Linked DNA regions of Homo sapiens: all the other regions are linked to region 1. The links come from fine-mapping of genetic effects on gene expression. A gene starts in region 1. Each other region holds a variant in brackets. All regions are shown on one strand. Distances are between the middles of the regions.

Region 1 (4,089 bases):
TCTAAGCAACAGGGCCAAACAAGCTCAGAATTTATGGACTTACTTTTGTTGTTTTTTTTTTTTTTTGGACTTACTTTTTGAATGGAAGTCACAGTCACAACACTTGCCTATCAATTATTTATTTATTTATTTATTTATTTATTTATTTATTTATTTAGACAGAGTCTTGCTGTGTCGCCCAGGATGGAGTGCAGTGGTGTAATCTCGGCTCACTGCAACCTCCGCCTCCCAGGTTCAAACGATTCTTCCGCCTCAACCTCCCAAGTAGCTGGGAATTACAGGTTCCCGCCACCTGGCCCAGCTAGCTTTTGTATTTTTAATAGAGACGGGGTTTCATCAGGTTGGCCAGGCTGGTCTCGAACTCCTGACCTCAAGTGATCTGCCCGCCCCGGCCTCCCAAAATGCTGGGATTATAGGCATGAACCCCGTGCCCTGCCTTAATGATGTTGTGCCCTGCCTTAATGATGTTTTGAGACCACAATAAAACCTAACTGATTCATACCAATGGGGAACTGTCAAACTGCATCAGTGGAGAGAAGTGAATTACATCCTTTTTAACATAAACTCTTTTATTTCCAGTAGAATTCAAATAAAATAAAATCTTTATTTCCAAATGGTTCAATACTTGGACCTGTTTTTTAAGGGGTTGTTCAGAATCTGATCTACTACATTTGTTACAACCACATTTATTGTTTGTATGGAAACAGGAATGGCTAAAGTTTTGAGAAGTGTGTTCTTCCTAAAAACGTAAAACATTCAACATCCCCCAGCAACCATGCTCACACAGTTCGCTCCTTGGTAGAGCTTTTTCTTCCCAGATCATGTGGAAGAAAACCCCAGCTCAGGCTGCTCCCGGCTGCTCTGGTTCTGAGTGAGTGTGCAGAGGTTTGCAATATCAGCCCAGGTCAAGCCCTGAAAAATCTCTCCAGACTCCAGACTTGATCTGTCCAGACCCATCCGAGAATTAACAGGCTCCCCATCGTGCCCACAGAAGCAAGACTGTCATGGAAACACTGATTCAACCATAATAACTACTGACAGAAAAACCACACAAATGAACTAAACAATTCTTCCACCCAATCAGAGTCCAGGGGAGTCCATAGCCTCAGGATTAAAATAAGTAGGGCTGTTTTTATTATGTGGTCCAGCTCGTTTGAGCCTCTCCCATTGCCTTGTTTTCACAGCTCCCTTTTATGAGAAAGAAAGTGGGGGTGGGGGAGTTGGGAGGGAGACTAGAGCTATGCAGACGGGAATGCCAGGCTGGGAATACCAACAAACAGTGTGCTGCATGTCAGGCAAATTAAAACTTCTAGCCTGGAGGAGGCTGTAATCGTGTTTGCGGTTAGTCTGAAAACAAGCTACACTGAACTTCTATCTCCCAGGAAAACAGTCGAGTGTGGACTGAAGTCAAAAATGAGTATTTTTAGCAAGCATTCTCTCTCTTCCGTTTATTTTCTTCCTTCTTCTGTCTTTAGATATTAGAAACGCTAATTACATGAAGTATCATTATTATTCGAAGAAAGCACAGTTAGAAGGGTTAAAAATAAAAAGATGCCAAACCAACAGAAGCAGTACAATCCTAAGGAGGAATATATTTTAATTTTTCCCTGTACCCACGAGGTTCAGTTTGTGGGTCCAAGGGACCCAACCCCAATACCCAGTGAATGGTCATACCTGCAGGAAATATTTGGGCCAGTGTGGTGGCCCCCGCGGCTGTGGCCCCGTGGCCTGGCTCCTTGCCTTCCAGGGCAGGAGGGGACTCCGGGCTGCAGGCACAGGCTAAGGTCCGAGCTGAGGTACCAGGGAGCGGGGAGGGACAACAGCCCAAATAACAGCAGTCAGAAGGAGGAGGGAGTCCGGGAGCGGGAGAGAGACACAGAGACCCCGAGGGAGGCGTGAGGGGCGCAGAGCTGGTGGCCCGGGTCCGAGAGGTCGAGGGGCCGCGCGCGGGTGAGAACGAGCCCCGGCCCCCGCCCTCGGAACTGAGTCGATATTCCTTTTTTTGCTGTTTGAGTTTTCTCTTTAGAGTCGGACCCCGGTCCCAGCAGCAGTCTCAGAACAGAGGGGAGCCGAGGAGTCCCTGCCGGGAGGCCATCCCTCTGCGGGCCCCAGGGCGCCCCTGGGGGCGGCCAGGGCGGGCGCGGGGAGATGGGGAGGCGCCGAGCGGCCCTGGAGATGCCCGCGTCCCGGGGCGCCCGCAAACTTTCCCAGACACGGCGGGAGGCCCCACCCTGGAGAGGGGGGGTCCCAGGCCTCCCGTCTCTGTCCCCTGGGGCTGGTCACTCACCGGCAGCGCGGTTGGGGCTCCGATTCTGGCCGCAGCCAGCCACACCAGGAGGCGGAGGAAGAGGAGGGGGAGGAGGAGGGGGAGGAGGAGGGGGAGGAAGACCCGGGGCCGCCGAGTGGAGGGCGGGGAGGGGCGGCCGCGGCGCAGTGACTCCTCCCGCTCCCGCCCCCGCCCCCGCCCCTCCTCCCCTGCTGAGCCTCCCTTCTCTCTTCACGCCTTCTTTCTCACCCCGAATCCCCCAAAGTTTTTCTGGTGTCCGACGCTCCGTTCTCTTCCCTCCAGCGCATCTTCTGTCCCCGAGTCTCCAGCCTCCCAGAGGAGGGGAGAGCGCTCCCTCCTGCAAAAGTCGGGGGGCGGGGGCGGTAAGTCTATGAGTTACCTTTCGATGCCCTCTTGAAGCAGATAGCTTGGACCCGTGGAAGGTCTGAAGCCACCCAGCACCCCCAGACCTTGTCCTCACCTCTGGGTGGGGATGATGGAGGGCCTTTGCGGTCGTGCTTTCTAAGTTGCTTCATGGAGTTTTGTTTTGTTTTGTACCCCCCGCCTCACCCCACCCCCACCCCCCACCCCCCACCTTGTAATTAGGAGAACTAAAGAATTATATTTGAAAGGTAAAGATGAAGCCCCACCTTCCTGGGCGAATCAATCATAGCAGGAGGAAGGACACAAGATAGTTTAGTGAGGGCCAAGCTGTGGGGGTGGGGAGGAGGTAAACGCGTCCAGATGCCTCCTCTTTGCTGCCTCAAGAGTGCATGGAGAGGGAGAAGGGGCGTTGTCCTCCCAGGAGAGGCTGCAGGGTGTCTCGTAGTCCCTATTCCATCGCCTGCTGGCAAATGACTCCAGGCAAGTCACTTGGCATCTCAGCCTCTTCCTCAAGGGGGGCTGCCTCACTGGGAGCCAGTCAGAATGAAGGCACCCTCCCCACCCCTTTACCCTGGAGAGACACCAAAACCCAGGACGAGAGACTGAGCTGAGTTTGAACAGGCTCAGAGGGGAGAGAAGAGGGCATTTTAGGCCCCATGGCATGGTGCTTTGGAGGTTGGCAAGACTGGAAGGCTTAGGGTAAGTGGGCAATGTTTAGATGGGAAGGTGGAGCTGGGCATGAAGCAGAATACAGGAAATCTCTGAAAGTTTTCAAGCGAAGGTGTAGAGTAGGCACTCAGTGAATCCTTGAGGATTCAAAATGGCAAATAAGAAATATTGGTTTAACAGTCCTGTAGGATGGACCACCTAGGAAGAAAGGGGTTGCATCCAAAGAGAGGGGTTAGGAGGCCCCGGTGAGCATCTCAACTTGAAGTACTATGCTGGAAGGTGGAAAGGCAATGAATTATTTTTTAATCGTAAATTTCCTTGAGGAGCTGGGCTAACTCATAGGCAGTGCACCCAGGGTTGGTGAAAATCAGTGGACACTTCTTTGTATTTGCACAGCAGTGTAATTCTTTTTTAAATGTTCTGTCAGGTGTAGCCTTGTTTTTGACCTTGGAGTTCGCTGGTGAAATGGAAATATAGTCAGTACCCTATTTGACCTCCAGCCAGTGTTAAGAACCTGCCCTCGGGGCTTTGAGGAAGGAAACTGACGTTCCAGGAGGGCACTCCTCGAGCGCCTGAAATCACACAGCCAGGATCTATTTAGGATACTTTTATTCTCAGATAAAACTACTAATTGTGCTTATGCTTAATATATCCTAAACACAGAAAAAGGCACTGGTTTCTCCTCAGCTTCTCATTTCCTCCAGCTACCTTCCAGTAATGGTTAAGAGTTGAGGAAGGGCAACTTGCCTAGGGAAGAGGAGAGCCTAGGG
Region 2 (4,089 bases), 51 kb before region 1:
ACAGAGTGAGATGCCATGTCAAAAACAAAAACAATACAAGTTGAGATGACCAAATGGGTGAATTCAGTCAACAAAAATCAATTTGGGTAAAAATGAAAGCAGTCTTATTTCAAAGAGCAGGGAGCAAACCTAAGGAAGAAGTGGTATCAGCTGAGAATGCAAAGAAGTTCAGGTATATTCATGGATGACAGATCTTTAGAGATTAATTAGGGAATCTCAGCTATATTAGAAATATTTTTAACATTTGAAGTTGATGCGTTAATCTCAACCATGGATATCAACGAATTTTCTCTTAGTGCCGCCATCCACAACAAATTCCTAGCCTAGCATGGTATTTCGTATGATATTTAAAAAATGTTCAACAGTTAAACTTATCTGGTAGAAATAGGTGCAAAAGGAAACAAATAAACCAGCTGTTTAGCTAAATGTTCCATCTCCTACCCCAAAGCACAGCCTCAGCTGACAAATTGCCATCTGTCTCTACCTGGTTTCAACCCAAGGAGGAAGGTAAGAATATTTAAGCTATTTCCCATGAAAATAAACTTGGGGTGTTGAATATTTACTTGAATTTTTGTCTGGAAGCCGATCTATCTTCCATACCACTGCCTGGTAGGCACTCTCATATTTTGCTGACCCCACAGTGACTTGAATGACAGGTTCAGATTCAAGTTCCTGTAAACTCCCCAGACATGCTCGGCGGTTCATTTTAGCTTTCAGAGACTTCTGCCTCTGGAGGTTCATGGTCCAAAGGGCCTTGATCCACTGCGATGGGACAGGAAAGTGTATCCTTATATTGTCACAGGACCTTAAGGAACCAGCATAGGATGACCTCTGCGCCAATGAGGCCATGTTGACAAAAGCCTGAAGTTCCACGTATGCTCCCTGGACAACCACTACAGACTTCAAGGAAAAGGGAAGATTATCCCCATTATACAAAGTCTTGAAACGCATCAGCTCAAACCGGCAGGCATCCAGAGGTACAAACTTAATGATTCTTGATTGCTCAAATTCTTGTACATTCACACACTTATGAAAATGGTAGTCAAGAATATCAATCCCCTTTTTTTCTGAGTCCTTCTCATAATAGGATTCATCTCGCTTCGGCAACTCAAGGTCATTCAAGGTTAAAAAGCATTCCAGGTTCCCATTCACAAAGCAGAGGCAATAAATTTGAGTTATCACAGCACTTTCAACAAATTTTCCTTCTTTTGTGACTTTACCCCAAAAGTTGTCCACAATTTCCAAGGAAATTTCTTGCTCCTCGTAGTTCTTTTTTGGTTTTGAAACAGCTGGCAACTTCATCAGCTCCTCCTCCACAGTAGTCAGAAAGTCAAGGAAGTCATGGTACGATGTGGACCCCAACTTCAGCATCTGCTCTATGTCAGGTTCATGAACTACTTCTGTCTTAGAATGGTATTTCCTTTTTTCTGTGTAAGACACATGTTCAATCTTCACAGTGTGGATTTTTCCTGCTACACTGAAGTTCTCAACCTTGGGTTCAGAAAGCCTACAATATGGATCAAGCTGTATCTCTTTAAATGGTTTTTCTAATCCCTGTTCATAATACATCTGCAAAATTCCTCCAGGCAAAACTTTCAGAAAAATTGGTCCCCATTGCCGGGAAGACATCATATTCTTCTTCTCAGGAATTCTCAGCATGAAAGACCATCC[G/A]GATTTTGGCTGACTCCTGAAGAGTGTGTGGGGGACAAAGGAAGAGGCATTTTCTTCAGCACATAGACAGTGCATAGACAAACTTCTAAGTGAGTCTTGGTTCTCAGCTGACTGGAGATGTTCAAGCTTCTCACAGATATAGTTGAGTGAACACTTATTTAGGCTTTTTTGGTCAATAGGCATCTCCTTGTTTCTTGATGAGAACATCTTTTTGCTTCCTGGTGGGTCAAGGGTGAAATGGGAATCACTGCCTTCATCTTTCCAAAATGGACTTGAAAAAGCACAGTCCTCTCGAAAATACTGAAACTGGGGGAGATCATCACTTTGGAATCCTAGGCTTTCAGCCTGTTGAGGATTAACTTCATCTGGAAGACCTACTTTGGGAGTTGGATGTGTACATGAGTGGTCACTGGGTAACAAGGCATGGGATAAACATGTTGGTCTGGTAGGCAGTAAGGAAGATTCTCCTCCTGATATTGCGAGTGGGCTGTCTGAAGATGATTCTGGAATAGGATAAAGCACATGAGTCCCTGCTTTGGGGATGCCAGGAAAACCTGGGAAGTCTTTGGTAGGTGTAGAAAGAGGAGAGTTACTTGGAGGTCCTGGACTGAAATAAAAATCTACAATGGGGGAGGAGAGAGGAGTGCTGCTGGTGGAGGAAGATCCACTGGGAAATTCCCTGAGGCCAGGAAGGTTCAGCTTCAGTCCATTTGGTCTACAGACACCTTGATTCTCCAGAGGAAAATTCTTTGACTTTTGAGAAGATTGAACAGCAGGATCATCATCAAAGGTGACCCATTTGCCTGGATTTGTGGAGCACATCTTTGGGATCAGATTGTGGTCTTGTCAAGAAATCAAATAGGTTGACTCTGTTAAAAAAATAAAATAAAGAGAAAATAGGTATATAAAATGAAGGGGGGAATCATTACTAAATGTCTTTACTTCTGATAAATGCTTAAAAATTATAATTCTGTTGGTGGCTAAGTGGATTAAAAAAAAAACATGATCCAACTGTATGCTGTCTATAAGGTACTCACTTTAGATTTAAAGACAGACATATGCTGAAAGTGAAAGGATGAAAAAACATATTCCATGCAAATGTTATCCAAGAGAGAGCAGGAGTAGCCATGCTTAAGCAAAATAAACTTTAAGTCAAAAACTATCATAGGAGACAAAGAAGGACATAATATAATGATAAAAGAGTCAATTCACTAGGAAGACGCAACAATTATAAATATATATTAACCCAGCTGGGAATGGTGGGTCACAACTGTAATCCCAGCACTTTGGGAGGCCGAGGCAAGCAGGTCACCTGAGGTCAGCAGTTCGAGAGCAGTCTGGCCAACATAGCAAAACCCTGTCTCTACAAAAAAATACAAAAATTAGCCAAGCATGGTGGTGGGCACCTGTAATCCCAGCTACTCAGGTAGCTGAGTCAGGAGAATCTCTTGAACCTGGGAGGCAGAGGTTGCAGTGAGCTGAGATAGTGCCATTGCACTCCAGCCTGGGTGACAGAGTGAAACTCCATCTGAAAATATATATATATTTATATATCCAACATCAGAGCACCCAAATATATGAAGCAAACATTAACAGAACTGAAGAGAGAAATAGATAGCCACCCACTAATAATTGGAGATTTCAACACCATACTTTCAACAATACACAGAACATCCAGACAGAAGACCACTAAAGAAACAATAGACTTGAACACTATAAACTCAACTAAACTGCCATACATATACAGAACATTCCACCTAACAGCAGCAGAACACATATTCTTCTCAAGCACACACAGAACATTTGCCAAAGCAGATCACGTTAGGTTACAAAACAAATCTTAACAAATGTGAGAAGATTGAAATCACACAAACATTTTTTCTAACCACAATGGAATAAAACTAGAAATTAATAATAGAAGGAAAACTAAAAAATTCACAAATATTTGAAAATTAACATACTCTTGAACAACCAATGGATCAAAGGAGAAATAAAAAAGGAAATTAGAAAATATCTTGAGACAAATGAAAATGAAAACACAGCACACCAAAACAGTACTCACAGGGAACTTTATAGCCACAAATGCGCCACTGCACTCCAGCCTGGGCAACACAGTGAGACTCCGTCTCAAAAAAAAAAAGGAAGAAAGAGGGCTGGGTGCAGTGGCTCACATCTATAATCCCAGCACTTTGGGAGGCTGAGGAGAGCAGATCACCTGAGGTCAGGAGTTCGAGACCAGCCTGGCCAACATGGAGAAACCCCATCTCTACTAAAAATACAAAAAATTAGCTGGGCATGGTGGCACACACTTGTAATCCCAGCTACTCAGGAGGCTGAGGCAGGAAAATCGCTTGAGCCCGGGAGGCAGAGGTTGCAGTGAACAGAGACTGTGTCATTACTCTCCAGCCTGGGCAAGGA
Region 3 (4,089 bases), 780 kb before region 1:
TTTGAGCTCCATCAGGTCCTTTAAGGACTTCTCTGCATTGGTTATTCTAGTTAGCCATTCGTCTAATTTTTTTCAAGGTTTTCAACTTCTTTGCCATGGGTTTGAACTTCCTCCTTTAGCTCGGAGTAGTTTGATCATCTGAAGACTTCTTCTCTCATCTTGTCAAAGTCATTCTCCGTCCAGCTTTGCTCCATTGCTGGTGAGGAGCTGTGTTCCTTTGGAGGAGGAGAGGTGCTCTGATTTTTAGAGTTTCCAGTTTTTCTGCTCTGTTTTTTCCCCATCTTTGTGGTTTTATCTACCTTTGGTCTTTGATGATGGTGACATATAGATGGGGTTTTGGTGTGGATGTCCTTTCTGTTTGTTAGTTTTCCTTCTAACAGTCAGGACCCTCAGCTGCAGGTCTGTTGGAGTTTGCTGGAGGTCCACTCCAGATCCTGTTTGCCTGGGTATCAGCAGCAGAGGCTGCAGAACAACAGATATTGGTGAACAACAAATGCTGCTGCCTGATCGTTCCTCTGGAAGTTTTGTCTCAGAGGAGTACCCGGCCGTGTGAGGTGTCAGTCTGGGGCACTGAGAGTAAACAGATCTCTCAAGTTCATACACATAGAAGTGGTGATTGCAGGAATTGAACACAGTTTGTCTGATTCCTGATCCTGTGCTCCAAGGTAATATACCACATGCCTCTTGGGTAGAATATTTCCTCAACCTGTGATATCAAGAACTTCATTCTTTTCACAAGTCATTTTGCTCATGAGTAACAGTGAATTTAACTTCAGGCAGGTGACAAGCGTAAGCTGTTATTTGCCCCTATTTTACTGCGCAAAGACGTAGAGAATAACAATATATGATGTGGTAATTGCCCTTATGGAACTTTTAATCAGTTGAGGAAATCTTATTAATTAATTATATCATTGTAGCCTAAACGTGGAAAATTACCTATTGTGTTTCAGTGTCACTTTTAAAACATGAAGGAAGTGACCTTCCATGGAGCTCAGCCACAATAACAGGTTTTCCAAAATTCCAAACTGGGTTCAGTGAACTTCAAAAATGGCCACAGAATGGAGAACCAAGCATATATTCCCCTCTTTTTCCTTTCAGTGCTATTTAACTATTTAAAAAAACTTACTAAAATATTTTTACCATAATTGGATATGAATTTAAAATTTATAGACAGAATGGAGTGAAAGTGAAAATGTATTGTTTTAGAGGCTTCTGGTGGCTTGGAAGTTGCTGCTAGTTTCTCTCCATGGGCCTGAAAGATGGTCTCAGAAGATTGGCACCACATGCCTGCTTCTATGCTGCTACACTGCTTTTTCCTAACCAACAGTCTGTGAATCGTTCCTAGCCAAGGTTCCCAAGCTACAGATTGCTTTAGCTGCTGCTTGTGGCTGTTCCTTTCTCCATCTAAGCTTACACACAGGACCAGGATGTGGGGAAAAACACTTAGACACTGTTGATGGGGATGTAAATTCGTTCAACCTCCATAGAAAACAGTGTGGAGATTTCTCAAATAACTAAAAATAGAACATTCAACCCAGCAATCCTACTACTGAGTACCTACCAAAGGAAAAAAAATTATATAAAAAATACATCTGCACTCATATGTTCATCACAGCACTATTTGTAATAGCAAAGTCATGGAACCAACCTAAGTTTCCATCAATGGTTGACTGGATAAAGAAAATGTGGTAGATATACACCATGGAATACTACGCAGCCATGAAAAGAATGAATCATGTTCTTTGCAGCATGAAGCTGTAGGCAATTATCCTAAGGGAACTAATTCAAAAACAGAAAATCAAAATTAAATACCTCACGCAGTCACTTATAAGTGGGAGCTAAACAACGAGTACACATGGACATACAGAGGAGAATAATAGACCTTGGGGACTCCAACAGTGGGGAGAATGGAAGAAGGGGTTGAGGGTTGAAAAATCACCTATCAAGTGCAATGTTCACTATTTGGGTAATGGGTATACTACAGGACTGATCCCCACCAGTATGCAATATACTCATGTAACAAACATGCACATGTACATCCTGAATTTAAAATAAAATTTAAAAATACAAAAAAGAATACCTATAGCCAC[C/T]GAGTGCTCTCTAGTTCTGCTGCCACCAAACCTCCTCATTTTATGCTTGGACAATTGTGATAGCTTTTAAGTTGTTCTTCCCTTTCCCTACAACACCTCCCTCCAGTTTTTCTCGGGTGCTTCCATCACATAAATTGCGTTCAAACAATTTTTTAACTTGCCATTCTCCAGCATAAATGTTTTCAGTGGTTCCTCATTACCTTTGGAATGAAATTCCCAACTCTTTGACATGGCATGTAACTCTCATGTCTCCTCTCTCTGAACTTTTACTCCACGACAGTGGTTCTTAACTGGGGACAATTTTGCTTCTCAGGGGACATTTGGTTGTCATACCTCCAAGAGGAGGTAAAGTAACTGGCATCTAGTTGGTAGGGGCAAAAGATGCTGCTAAACATCCTACAATGCCCCCCCCCCACCTCAACAGAGAACTACACAGACTGGGAGGTCAGTAGAGCAGAGGTTGACAAACCCTGTTTGAGACAAATGGGACTGAGAGTGTTTCCTAGAATGTACCCCGCACATACCAACACCATACATCTTCAGCTGTCCAACTTAATGCTTAAATGTTACTACTACCTTTATTCCTATCAATTCTCCAAAGCCTTCCTGGTGAAATGCTCCCTCGCTCCACTGAATTTTTATTGCATATACTTGTTTCACCCTTGTGTTACTTTTCCTAATCTTTTCTTTCCCCACTGTTAAATATTTTTGAAATATAAAGCATCTATCTTCTCCCCCTCATATCCCTTTGCAGTACTTATCACAGGGCTACACATATAATAGGTACTGGAAAATATTTGTTGTTTGACTGGACACAGAAAAACAGTTCATTTATTTTGACTGTAGGCTCCCTTTATAGCCATGTCTGTCCATTTGCTATATAATGCGATCACTGCTACTGCAGTCACTGAATTCCTAATATGTAGACTCAAGCACAGTTCCTTTGTTTTAAGATACTGACAGTTTTACTAGTTCTAAACTCAAGGAAGCGTAATGGAATCCTGGTGATCAGGTATGGCCCTGTCTCCATTTGTCACACCTCTTGGCCTGCTGTTATCTTAAATGAGTGGCCATGTGGAACAAATCACTAACGTGAAGGACAAGGCAAAATTACCAGAAAAGAAAGCATGAAATGGTAAATGTTTTATTTAATGTAGAATGATATGGAAATGTTTCATCTGATGCCAGCCTGCTGTTTTAAACAACCTCAGCTTCATTATTCAGAACCCTAGCATTAATGTATCTTTGCAGTGGAAAGCTTGCTAAGCAGGCTAAGAGAACACATTAGTGGAATCTTGTCTTTCCTGGTTGCTGCCCCTCATGCAAATAAATGGTTCAATTTAAAGTAATTTACCAAAGATGCATAGAGCACCTAGTATATAAAGTGAACACATGTACGGTGCCTGGCATATATACAATGGAAGATGTAAAGATGCCTACAGAGAATCCACAATCCAGTAGAAATATAAGGTAAAACAAGATGAATGGTAGTAAAATAGAGTTCTCTGAGCTCTCCAGGGGTAGAGTAACTAGGTTTAAAGGAAGCAGGTGAGTGTCACTTTTAAGCTTCTTCATAAAGGAGGAATAGGAATGTTTTGTTTTTAAATTTCCTTTTTTTTTAAATTTTGTATTGCTGCCATAATAAATTATCACAAACTTAGTGGTTTCAAATATCACACATGTGTAACTTTACAATTCTATAGGTTAGAAGTCTGACACAAGTCTCAGTTTGTTAAAATAAAACCGTCACTGGGGCTATACTGCTTTCTGGATATTATAAGAATCTGTTTCCTTGCCTTTTCCAGCTTGCAAGCTGCCATAGTCATTGGCTCAAAGCCCTTCTTCCATCTTCAAAGCCAGTAGTGGTAGATTGAGACCATCTCATGCCTCATCTTTCTGACCACTCTTCTTTCTTTTTTTTCCACTTTTAAGGACCTGTTTGATTAGACTGGGCCTCCCTGAAGACACCAAGCCATTCTCCTATGTTCATCTAGATGCT
Region 4 (4,076 bases), 200 kb after region 1:
ATCAAAATTTGTTTATGTATAATAATATTTCAATGCCTTGAATATAAGTCATAGTCATGCAGTATATCACCTATAGCCAAATAAATTGCTCCACTGAAAAGAAGCATCTTTTAAAAGTATATTCATGATCAGAAATAAATCTAATAAATGCAGACAATGATACCTTACTAATAGCCCCAATGTCAAATTTGGAAAGCAAGAGTAAAACTTAGGACTCTCTACTGATTGGTTTAATATATTGATTTTATATGTAATTCTAAAAACAAAACAAAAATACAATTAACAGAATTAAGTTGATTTTAAATAGGGCTACATTAACCTCATACGTACTCTGACTTAAAAATATATTTATGCTAAAAAATTATTAAAGATATTAATGTTATTAAAGACTATCTCCAGCTGGACACGTTGGCTCACACCTGTAATCCCAGCACTTTGGGAGGCCAAGGCAGGTGGATCACCTGAGGTAGGGAGTTCAAGACCAGCCTGACCAACACGGAGAAACACCGTCTCTACTAAAAATACAAAATTAGCTGGGCGTGGTGGCACATGCCTGTAATCCCAGCTACTTGGGAGGCTGAGGCAGGAGAATCCCTTGAACCCAGGAGGGAGAGTTTGCAGTGAGCCAAGATCGTGCCATTGCACTGCAGCCTGGGCAATAAGAGTGAAATTCCATCTCAAAAAAAAAAAGACTATCTCCAGATCATTTTAGAAAGTAATACTTTCTAAAATAAATGTTTCTAAATAAACTTATATGGAATACAACCTAAATTCTAATAAGCCATATCAACTGCAGCTACATATAGCTAAGTAGTCTAGTGGTCACTACTAGTAGACATGGTTAGCAAGTGAGTGGATGTTAGTTCTATTTGCTACTATAAATACTGGAAGAGAAAATGACTGTTTTTTTTCTTTTTGGAGACAGATTAATGTTTGCAGTGTTTTGTTTTGTTTTGTTTTAAAAACCTGTTGAATTTGAGACATTTGTGAGATATCCAAGTAGGACAGGCATTTGGGATATACGTGACGTAAAGTTCAGGAAAGAGGTCTGGTCTGGAGATAAATTTTGGAGTCATTAAATCTGAAATACCTCTGAAATCTGTCCACATTTCTCCATTTTCACTGTCACAACTATAGCCTAGGTCAACATTATCTTTCATCCAGACCACTCCAAAGGTAGTATAGGTTGAATACTCACTCCTTATCCAAAATTCTTGAGACCAGAATGCTTTGGATTGGGGATTTTTTGGGACTTTGGAATATTTACTTGTATATACATGATGAGATACTTTAGGGATGGGACCCAAGTCTAAACATAATATTCATTTATGTTTCATATATATCTTATACAAATAGCCTGAAGGTAATTTTATTTTTCCCTTGGAGATGCTGAATAAACTATGTGTTGTGCACCTGCATTTTGACTACAAACCATCACATTAGGTCAGGTGTGGAATCTTCCACTTGTGGCATGTTGGCACTCAGAAAACTTCAGATTTTGAAGCATTTCAGATTTTGGATTTTTGCATTAGTGATGCTCAACCAGTATACATGAATGGAAACCCCTATGGTGTGTTCTGCACAACCACACACAGTAGCTCCTACAGTATCTTCCTAAATTAATCTCCCTAAACTTATGCCAGACTCTCTCTTAATTTGTTCTCTGTAATACACTAATGTAATACTGCAGAATGTAAATCTAGCAATGTCCCTTACCTGCTTAATCCATCAAGGGGACCCTTAGGTCAAAATCCTTAACCTTGTATACAAGACCCTGCGTATTTTAGCCATGCTCTAACCTTTCAGGTCACATTTTTTGCCACTCTTTCCCTTGTTCTCTCCATTTCGGATATCTGAATAGACCATGCTTTCTCCTCTCTCAAAGCCTATACAAATCCTAGTCCCTCTGCCTGGAACACTCTTCATTCCACCTAACCCTGGCTAACTGCTATTTATTATTCACACCACAGCTTGGAGATCTTGGGAGAAGAAGGCCGGGCACGGTGGCTCATGTCTGTAATCCCAGCAATCTGGTAGGCCAAGGCAGGCAGATCATTTGAGGCCAGAAGTTTGAGACTGGCCTGGCCAATATGGCAAAAACCCCATCTATACTAAAAATACAAATATTAGCTGGGCGTGGTGGCATGTGCCTTTAACCCCAGCTAGTTGGGAGGCTGAGGCACAAGAATCATCTGAACCTGGGAGACACAGTTTGCAGTGAGCCAAAATCGCACCACTGCACTCCAGCCTGGGCGACTGAGGAAAACTTCGTCTCAAAAAAAAAAAAAAAAAAAAAAGAA[A/C]TCTTGAGGGAAGAATTCTCTAAAATCCCAGACTATGGAGGGGCCCCAGTTCTACTCTCCCATAGTACTCGAACCTTTTGATAACATTTGTCACACCTGAGATGGTTTAATACATATCTTTCCTGACTAACTGAAAGCTTCATAAGGGCAGAGCTAGTTGTCTGTTTTGTTTACTGCTCAAATATTTGTTGTCTGGCAAATCTTGGTTCTAGTTCTGCTAGTACATAATTTTTCCATCTGTAAAATGAGATGTTAGACTTTATTATAATAATCTAAATTCTAATCAAAACTGAAATTCAAATATTACTACCTTTCCTATAGATACATACATGTGAGATCTACATTTCCTTTCGGTATTTATTCCACATACACTCACATTATATTCCATATATACTCACACATGTATGTATACATTACAAATACACACACACACATAAAATGAAAGAGCTAGTACTTTCATAAATTTAAAAAACTCATTGAATGCTTATTGGTAACAGGTATTGTTGTAAATACTTTACTAGTATTAACTCTTTTAATCTTATTCATAACAACCCTATCAAGTAGTTGCCATTATTAGTGTCTATTTTATATGCAGAAACACACATAGAGAAGGATTAAACGGTGTGCTCCAAACTGGAAGTACTGGCTCCAGAATTCACACTATTCACTGCTACACTAGCCTGACATCCTGCCTAGATTGCTTTTTAAGTACAAAAGACCAAAAACAAACAAACAAACAAAAATCAATAACTGATTCAGTATCTACATCCTCAAGCTAATGCTTCTGTATTAGAAGTCAGTCCAAACTATACTAATCCTGTTCAAATACATTTCTCTATATGCTTGCTTTTGATATTCTAACAACTGGATTGTCTACCTTCCCTCTCATCATTCAGTCAAACCCTAATATTTAAGACCTAATTTAACGACAACTCCTCCACATAATTCCCACCCCAACTTTTTTCTGTTAGAGTCTTTCAATCTCTCCGTGTTCCAACTGCATTTACATTTCCTCTTTTTTACTGTAGTTATTTATGTTAAGAGACCAAAATAAACAATAGACATGAGATCACTTCATAAACACTAAAGTTATTTTATAAGATACTTAATACACACCAAGTCAAAAGTATCGTTAACCAAAGAAAGAAAATAGAAAACAATGGACTCAATATCCCTAAGCAGAGTACTTCAAAAGCAAGCACAACCTGGCTCTAACTTGCTGCCAATTTGAATAGAAGTACAAAGGGAAAATTATACCCAAATCATACCACATCAAGTTTTGTTTTAACTAAACAAAGAAGTCATTTTAATCAAACTACATGAAACAAAAAAAAATTTGAAGGATGAAATATGATATTCATTAAAATATTTACTGGTCCAAGCACTTTGGGAGGCCAAGGCAGGCAAATCACTTGAGGTCAGGAGTTCGAGACCTGCCTGGCCAAAATGGCAAAACCCGTCTCTACTAAAAATACAAAAATTAGCCAGGCAAAGTGGTAGGTGCCTGTAATCCCAGCTACTTGGGAGGCTGGGGCAGGAGACTCACTTGAACCCAGGAGGAGGAGGTTGCAGTGAGCAAGATTGTGCCACTGTACTCCAGGCCTGGGAGACAGAGCGAAACTCTGTCACAAAAAAAAAAAAAAAAAATTACTGAGCAATTTGTCATTCACGTACAGAATACTATGCGTTATACTATGTTTTCCATTCTACTTTGTGACCTTTTCACTTTCTAAATTTCAGGTCTCTACTTAAGAGATAGTTGATGACATATGACAA
Region 5 (4,089 bases), 23 kb before region 1:
GGAAAAGATTGAGAAATCGGATGGTTGCAGTGTCTGTGTAGAAAGAAGTAGACATGGGAGACTTTTCATTTTGTTCTGCACTAAGAAAAATTCCTCTGTCTTGGGATCCTGTTGATCTGTGACCTTACCCCCAACCCTGTGCTCTCTGAAACATGTGCTGTGTCCACTCAGGGTTAAATGGATTAAGGGCGGTGCAAGATGTGCTTTGTTAAACAGATGCTTGAAGGCAGCATGCTCGTTAAGAGTCATCACCAATCCCTAATCTCAAGTAATCAGGGACACAAACACTGCGGAAGGCCGCAGGGTCCTCTGCCTAGGAAAACCAGAGACCTTTGTTCACTTGTTTATCTGCTGACCTTCCCTCCACTATTGTCCCATGACCCTGCCAAATCCCCCTCTGTGAGAAACACCCAAGAATTATCAATAAAAAAATAAATAAATAAATAAAAAAAAAAAAAAAAAATTTTGCACTTAAAGTTTGAGTAGAAACGCATACGTGGGAGCCAATGACTGGATGTGCCAACTGACATTTTCGACCTTAGCCTATATGTAAATTTACAGATCTCTAAGTCTCAACCTTGGGTGCTTGAGCCCCTGGCAGGCTAACCTCTTTCCTCCCAACTCTGAGTCCAATTTAAAGAAGCAAAAGGCCGGGCGCAATGGCTCACGCCTGTAATCCTAGCACTTTGGGAGGCCGAGGCAGGCAGATCACCTGAGGTCAGGAGTTCGAAACTAGCCTGGCCAACGTGGTAAAACCCCGTCTCTATTAAAAATACAAAAAATTAGCTGGGCATGGTGGTGCACGCCTGTAATCCCAGCTAGTTGGGAGGCTGAGGCAGGAGAACTGCTTGAACCAGGGAGGTGGAGGTTGCAGTGAGCCGAGATTGTGTCATTGCCCTCCAGCTCGGGCGACAAAGAGAGACTCTGTCTCAAAAACAAATAAACAAATAAATAAAATAAAATAAAGGAGTAACACCCAGCCTCCTCAGGAAGCCCAAGTCATCTCAGGTGCCTCTGCACAGCCCAGCTCAGCAAGGCACACTAGCTCCCAACAGATGCAGCCCAGCACAACCAGGAGCTCACACCACCTCTAAGGTGATGGATGGTCTCCACTGGACACCACCCAGGGTTCTGCTCTCTCCCCACACCCATCTCTCCAACAGACTTTGTATTCCTGCTCACAGCACACAGAAGTCCTTTGGGTGAAGTCCCCACAGCTATTTGCCTGGCCTGGGAACCATGAAGCCAGTATTTAGGTTTTCTTCTAACTCTGCTTCTCTCTGCCTTTGTAAGTTTGAACAAGTCACTGCTATCAAGCAGTTTCCAAGGTCCCTTCAAACTCAAACAATCTACGAGGATCAATTCTCCTAAGAAGGGGTCTAAGGCCAGTCATGGTATCTCACGCCTGTAATCCCAGCACTTTGGAAGGCCGAGGCAGGTGCATCACTTGAGATCAGGAGTTCAAGACCAGCCTGGCCAACATGATAAAACTGTGTCTCTACTAAAAATAAAAAAATTAGCCAGGCATGGTGGCATGTGCCTGTAATCCCAGCTACTTGGGAGGCTGAGGCAGGAGAATCGCTTGAACCCGGGAGGCAGAGGTTGCAGTGAGCCGAGACCATGCCATTGCACTCTGGCCTGGGAAACAAGAGCAAAACTCCACCTCAAAAAAAGGAAAGAGGAAAGGACAGGACAGGACAGGAAAAAAACAAAACAAAACAAACGAGAGAGAGAGAGAAAGGGAGGAGGAAGAGCGGAGGGGAGGGGATGGGACGGGATGGGAAGGGAAGGGAAGGGAAGGGAAGAGAAGGGAAGGGAAGGGTCTACAGAGAGGTATTTGCCCCCTGAAGCTGCCTTTCTGTCTAAACTCTTGAGCCTTCAGGC[C/T]GGAGGTTTTCCAAGGCACAGCAACAATATCTTTCATACCCTGCTCTTCTGAAATGTCATCTTGCCCCTCTTCCATCAAGAGGAAGACTCTGTTTCCCCTCCTCTTGGATCTGGTGGGCGCTGTCACTGCTCTGACCATACAATGTAGCAAACATGATGTTGTGACAATTCTAGTCATACCCCTGAAATGACCCAGAAGCTTCCGTTTCTGACTTGTCAGAGTCTGAGATGCCATGTAAGAAGCCCAGCTACTTTGCTGGATAGAGAAGCCACATGGAGCAGCCACTCCAAGGCACCACCTTGGATGTCCATTTGCCATCAGGCTGCAACTACATGAGAAACCTCAAGCAAGAACCACTCAGCTGAGCCCAGTCAACCCATAGAACCAGAAGAGAAAATATTAAATTGTGATTTTCAACCTCTACATGTTTTCTGTGATAAAACATACATAAAATCTACCCTTTTAACCATTTGTAAGTGTACACTTTTATTTAGTTATTATTATTATTTGTTTTTTGAGATGGAGTCTCACTCTGTTGCCCAGGCTGGAGTGCAGTGGTGCCATCTTAGCTCACTGCAACCTCTGCCTCCTGGGTTCAAGCGATTCACCTGCCTTGGCATCCTGAGTAGCTGGGATTACAGGCGCCTGCCACCATACCCTGCTAAATTTTTTTTTTTGTATTTTTAGTAGAGACGGGCTCTCACCATGTTGGCAAGGCTGGTCCCGAACTCCTGACCCCAGGAGACCTGCCCACCTCGGCCTCCCAAAGTGCTGGGATTACAGGCATGAGCCACCACACCCGGCCTGTAAGTGTACACTTTAGTGGCATTAAATACATTCACATTGTTGTGTAACCATCACCACTATCCACCTCTAAAACTTTTTCATCTTTCCAAACTAAAACTCTGCACCCATAAAACACTTAGTCCTCATTCATCTTCTCTCCAGCCCCTGCAACCACCACTCTACCTTCTGTCTTCATGAATTTGTCTACTCTAAGTACCTCATATAAATGGAATCATACAGTATGTGTCCTCTTGTGTCTGGCTTATTTCACATAGCATTATGTCTTCAAGGCCCATCCATACAGAAGCTTACATCAATATTTCATTCCTTTTTAAGGCTGAATAATATTCCATTGCATGGACATGCCCCATTTTGTTTATCCATTCATCTGCTGATGAAAACCTCAACATTTTGGAGTAGCTGCTCTGCAGCAACAGATCACTGGAGCAGCAGGCAATGCAGCCATGGAAAGCAGAGCTGGGTTCCCACGGCAGATGTCAGGACCTGGAGAGTCCACCCAAAACACAGGACACCAGGAACTAACCCTCAGAGTAGGTGAAGTTGGTGACTGACCAGGAATCCGGGTTGGAGCTCCCAACATCACTTGTCACAGTGGGCTGGGTGTCTCCTCAGGTCTCTAGGCTGGGAGCAACTCCAGCACAGGGGATGATAGGATCTTATTCATGCCTGGGTTCTCTGCCCTGGCATAGGCTGAGGGCCTGGAGTCCAATCAATGTTTGGTAAATGTACCTGACACTTCAGCCAGGTTCTGACTCATCCCAGAGTTTTTTACATGCTCCTTGCAAGGCAAGAGCCATGCCAAGGAAAATGCGGGAGACTAACTGCTTCTGGCTGGGAAAGAAAGGGAGAGGAAGCAGCAAAAGGACATTCTGTCAGAGAAAAATTCACTTCCAGACAGCTCAGGATCTCCATCAAAGCGCCCCGTCCCCAGAATCAGGCAGGTAGCCACAGCTGGCAGAGACTTTACCATCTGAAGGTTAGGAAGGTATCTAGGGCATCAAGCTGAGCCAACAAGACAAGGCCAGGGGCAGGGGCAGGGTCAGAGGGGCTTGGCCCTTGGTCATGGCACAGGCCATGGAAAGTAGGGAAGGGAACTTGAACTATGAGCTCAATTGCATACCCCAGCCCTGGAAGCATTGGGGCATGACCTTCCTTCACTGCAGGAGGACTCAGATTTGTTGCACTATGTCCCCAAGCCTCTCACCCATAACAAATTTACCCAGGAAACACCCATCTATAGTCCAACCCATTCTCCCTGTTGCGATGTTCCACTTGGCCACATAACTAGGGTGCCTGACACAAGTCAGGACACACCAGAGCATAGATGTTAATTCCAGGTTTAAGAAGAAGTTGTTCTTGATTGGCTTAGAGTGAATGCCACCCAGGTAACAAACCTG
Region 6 (4,089 bases), 180 kb after region 1:
TTCAAAACACTCAGATTAATTACATTAAAAATGTATACATTTAAAAATTATAGATGTGACCAACTCCCTTTTGAGTATTATCACAAATCATACTATTGGACATATGGTTTTGTAACTTTTACTAAAAATAATACCACTGTGAATATTTTCACATACATCTTCTTGTATGCAACTATGAATGTTACTCTAGGGGAGAAATCAGAATATGATCTGCTAGATCAAAGAAGAGCCCATTTCTAATTCTAGTAACTACTGCCCTCAAGAATGGTCATATTAATGTACTCCTATCAATGATGTGAAAGTATCAATATTTACTCATGTCCTCAAATATTTAAAATTTTTGAATTCTAATAGATAAAAAAGCATTTTTTGTTCTTTTAATTTGAATGTCCCTCACACACATTACTAGTAAGATAAACATCTTTGTTTATGTTTATTGCCTATTTGTGTTTCCTCCTCTGTGAACTGCCTATTCATATACTTGCCCATTTTTCTATTAGATTTTCATTTTCTTATTAAATTATATGAGTTTCTTCTATAATGGTATACTGTTGATAGTAAACATTGCTTCTCAACTCCACATTTAGCAAAAGCTAAACAGCCTGTCCCTAGCCAGTTGTTAAACATTTATCAGCACAGCACTTTTTTTTGTTTTTGAGACGAAGTCTCGCTCTGTTGCCAGGCTGGAGTGCAGTGGCACAGTCTCGGCTCACTGCAACCTCTGCCTCCTGGGTTCAAGTGATTCTCCTGCCTCAGCCTCCCAAGTAGCTGGGATTACAGGCACACGCCACCACACCCAGCTAATTTTTGTATTTTTAGTAGAGATGGGGTTTCACTCTGTTGGCCAGGCTGGACTTGACCTCTTGACCTCGTGATCCGCCCACCTCAGCCTCCAAAAGTGCTGGGATTACAGGTGTGAGCCACCGCGCCCAGCCAGCACAGCACTTATTATATATTTTGAATCCTAATCTTTTGGCTGCTACTTTCTCAACAACTTCTTCTTAGCCAATCATTTTCAAGTGTTCTGCAACATTTGACACTGTTGGCCATTCACACTTCAGCTTAGCTTCCTTGGCTTCATTACACCATACTTTTCCTAGATTATTCCACTCAGAAGCAATGCTGATAAATTCCAAACTTAAGAGCTGTAATCTCACCACATCACCTCTATTCCTGCCTATATTTCTAAGTACCTAGTAGATGGTTACCTTTTATGTACCATCATAAGTATAAACACAATAGTTCTAAAAGTATAAAAGAATTAAGTGACACAATTCAAGAATAAAATCACTAAGGAAATTCTAAATGCATAAACAATAGCAAACAATGACACTGTTAACTATAAGGGTAAATTTAAACGGAGACTACATAAAATAATTATGAAATATGTACAGTGTTTAAAAAAAAAAGACAGAGGATAACAATACCAACACAACAGAGGAAAAAGAATAAAGGGAGATCAATTTCAAAGAAGGCAAAGAGAAGGAAGGATAGGGAGATGATTTTCACTGTAGCAGTGTTTATAACAAAAAATTAGAAACCCAAATGTTCATCCACATCACAATTAAAGAGAATTATGCATTAAGATGAAAAAAGATGCTGAGCTTTTAAAAGGTTATTGAATAATATCACTCCCCCCTTTCTCTTTCACACACACACACACACACACACACACACACACACACACACACACACACACACAGTCTTAAGTGACTATTCTACTAAGGCCTTGACCTCAGAGAGCTCTC[A/C]TATCTTCCCTAGTGGGAGAAGCAAATCTATACATAACTGGGATATGTATGTTATAAAGGTAACAAACAGAATGCTATAAAAACACAAAATGAGTACAAAAAAGCAGGAAATGCTTGAGAGGTGACTTCTGAGCTGGGCTTTGAGGAAATGTTCTCTCCACTGAAAGTGAATTACGAAAATGCAGTGTAGATAGAGGAACAAAATAAACAAGGACTATTTATAGTATACTGGAATAGCAAGTAGTCTTGTGGGGGTAGATCATGGAGTAGTGAAGAAAAAAAACTGCAAAGACAGGCAGAAGCCAAACTGGGGAGGGTCTTGAAAACCATGTTAACAAGTTTGGCTTTTATTTAGTAAGTCATATTTACTAAAGGTTACTAGTTACAAAAACTGAAGTAAAAATGAGGCTCAGAGAGTCTAACTTTACCAAGTCACACATCTATCTGGATCTAGGAACATACCTGAATCCAATCCTTCATGCTGACTCCTCAACTTATATAATAGTTCAATTTGATGAGAAATGAGGGGAAGACCTGAACTAAGGCCAATGTTATGGTAGAAACTAAAAGAAATGGCCAGAATCAAAAAGCAACTTGTAGGTATTTATAGGTGCTACTAGATACTGCTTTTTCTTGAATCTAACCCCTGGCTTTGACAGGCTTTCTAGACCAGGATCAATTAATACCACGTATCTCACTTTTTTGGTTATAAAATAAGGAAGTTCATCAGGATAATGTCTATATTCCTTTCAAATTTGACATTCAAATAACTTAGGCATTGCAAAGAGCAGGTACCCAAGATGACTCAGATTTCTAGCTGAGACCCAAATAGATCCTTGGAGAAGAGAGAGGAATAAAGTCCAATTTCGGACACACTGAATTTGAGATACCTCCAGATCTAATAATTAGTTGCAAATTTACGTCTGGGCTTTAGGAGAAAGATCTAGAAGTCATAAGATCACAGACGACATATTAAGCCATGGGAATTAATGAGATTAAGAAAATACTAAATCAACAAAAAAGACAAAATAGTGAACACTAAAGTTTAAATGGCAAGTGGCAAAAGAAAAAGATGGAGAGTCCACACAGGTAAACAAAGAATTAAGCACAGTGTTATACAAATCAAAGAAAAGATGAATTCCCAGAGCTAATCATGTCATATAATGCAGTTTTAGGTTGAGTAAGACAGAAAAGAAGTCAGTGGATTTAGACATAAGGAGGGCAATGATTACAAAGTGTTCAAATCCCACATCTTCACTGAAACTATCTCTGTTTGCATGGTACTACTAACTGTAACATTCCTTTGGCAAATGAATTCAGATATTGTTTAAGGTAATATATTGCCCTATCATTCACACTGTCACAAGTCAAATACAGAGAAACTCCATCATGCTCCTGGCTTAAAAACTCTCACTGGTTTGCTCTCAAAACTGAAGTCCAAACAACTGAAGCCCAAAACTGAAGTCCAAGCATGATATTCATCACACTTCTATTCTGGATCACTCTGCTTTTCCACCCTGCTCTCGTACATTCCTCACCAACAGAGAATATGCCTACTGCCCCAAACTCCCAGCAGAATATACTATTGCCCTTTGGCATATGTTACCCTTCTAAAACCTGTTCTCTTTTTTCAAAGCACACTTCAATGGCAAACTTTTCCATAAAAATTTCCCAAATCTTTTAGTTTAGGGGTCCCCAACCCCCAAGCTGGAGACCGGTACAGGTCCATGGCCTCTTAGGAAACAGGTCACAGAGCAGGAGGAGAGTGGAAGTTGAGAAGCATTACCACCTGAGCTCTGCCTCCTGTCCGATCAGCCCATGCATTAGATTCTCACAGGAGCTCAAACCCTATTGTGAACTGTGCATGTGAGGGGATCTAGGCTGTGCGCTCCTTATGAGAATCTAATGCCTGATGATCTGAGGTGGAACAGTTTCATCCCAAAACCATATCCCATGTCCCCACCTCAGGTAGCAGAAAAACTGTCTTCCACAAAACCAGTCCCTAGCGTCAAAAGTTTGGGGACCACTGTGCTAGGTAATAATTAATCAACTTCTCTCTGACTCTGTTCATGTTGCTATTATGATATTTCTTTCTATATCGTATTATGATTAACTGTTTGCCTTCTTACTTTTTAAAACTTAAACTCCTTCACGCCAGGAACCATCTCACCACTGCACTCCAGCCTGGGCGATAGAGGGAGACTCTGTCTCACAAAACAAAACGAAAAACATTGGATTCAACTTTGGCCGAGTGCAGTGGCTCACACCTGTAATCCCAGCACTTTGGGAGGCTGAGACAGGTGGATCGCTTGAGCCCAGGAGTTAGAGACCAGCCTGGGCA

Direction of the effects. Positions count from the first base shown, and alleles are read on the strand shown. Sizes are in standard deviations (SD) of each study's normalised expression. Not every link is listed here.
As copies of G replace A in region 2, the expression in tibial artery of the gene that starts at base 2,350 in region 1 goes up (small effect, 0.18 SD a copy in GTEx).
For the expression in prefrontal cortex of the gene that starts at base 2,350 in region 1, allele T in region 5 goes with a higher level than allele C (small effect, 0.31 SD a copy in BrainSeq).

The links. PIP is the estimated chance that this variant, and not a neighbour inherited with it, causes the effect.
Region 2: its variant is the best candidate, but not a certain one, in a credible set for the expression of STON1 in tibial artery (GTEx, PIP 0.80).
Region 3: its variant is the best candidate, but not a certain one, in a credible set for the expression of STON1 in left ventricle (GTEx, PIP 0.59).
Region 4: its variant is the best candidate, but not a certain one, in a credible set for the expression of STON1 in whole blood (TOPMed, PIP 0.75).
Region 5: its variant is the best candidate, but not a certain one, in a credible set for the expression of STON1 in prefrontal cortex (BrainSeq, PIP 0.51).
Region 6: its variant is the best candidate, but not a certain one, in a credible set for the expression of STON1 in amygdala (GTEx, PIP 0.68).

The regions. Positions count from the first base shown.
Region 1 is chr2:48,528,415-48,532,503 of GRCh38, reverse strand. STON1 (stonin 1) reads right to left here and starts at 2,350. Exons shown (of 4, transcript NM_006873.4): 1 at 2,288-2,350. It overlaps STON1-GTF2A1L (STON1-GTF2A1L readthrough), which reads right to left and starts at 2,579. Exons shown (of 11, transcript NM_001198593.2): 1 at 2,516-2,579. RefSeq lists a silencer at 2,019-2,218 and an enhancer at 1,810-2,357.
Region 2 is chr2:48,579,038-48,583,126 of GRCh38, reverse strand. STON1-GTF2A1L (STON1-GTF2A1L readthrough) reads right to left here. Exons shown (of 11, transcript NM_001198593.2): 2 at 564-2,540. The coding sequence starts at 2,493. STON1 (stonin 1) reads right to left here. Exons shown (of 4, transcript NM_006873.4): 2 at 564-2,540. The coding sequence starts at 2,493. Among named protein-coding and RNA genes, the nearest start is that of GTF2A1L, 37 kb to the left of the region's middle. The variant G/A (reference allele first, on the strand shown) is at 1,672.
Region 3 is chr2:49,308,658-49,312,746 of GRCh38, reverse strand. The region is part of intron 2 of LOC105374595 (a long non-coding RNA gene); the gene reads right to left. Among named protein-coding and RNA genes, the nearest start is that of FSHR, 160 kb to the right of the region's middle. The variant C/T (reference allele first, on the strand shown) is at 2,091.
Region 4 is chr2:48,324,066-48,328,141 of GRCh38, reverse strand. All of the region lies in intron 1 of FOXN2 (forkhead box N2), which reads right to left. Among named protein-coding and RNA genes, the nearest start is that of FOXN2, 11 kb to the right of the region's middle. The variant A/C (reference allele first, on the strand shown) is at 2,301.
Region 5 is chr2:48,551,082-48,555,170 of GRCh38, reverse strand. All of the region lies in intron 1 of STON1-GTF2A1L (STON1-GTF2A1L readthrough), which reads right to left. All of the region lies in intron 1 of STON1 (stonin 1), which reads right to left. Among named protein-coding and RNA genes, the nearest start is that of STON1, 23 kb to the right of the region's middle. The variant C/T (reference allele first, on the strand shown) is at 1,885.
Region 6 is chr2:48,351,166-48,355,254 of GRCh38, reverse strand. All of the region lies in intron 3 of FOXN2 (forkhead box N2), which reads right to left. Among named protein-coding and RNA genes, the nearest start is that of FOXN2, 39 kb to the right of the region's middle. RefSeq lists a silencer at 1,969-2,018. The variant A/C (reference allele first, on the strand shown) is at 1,749.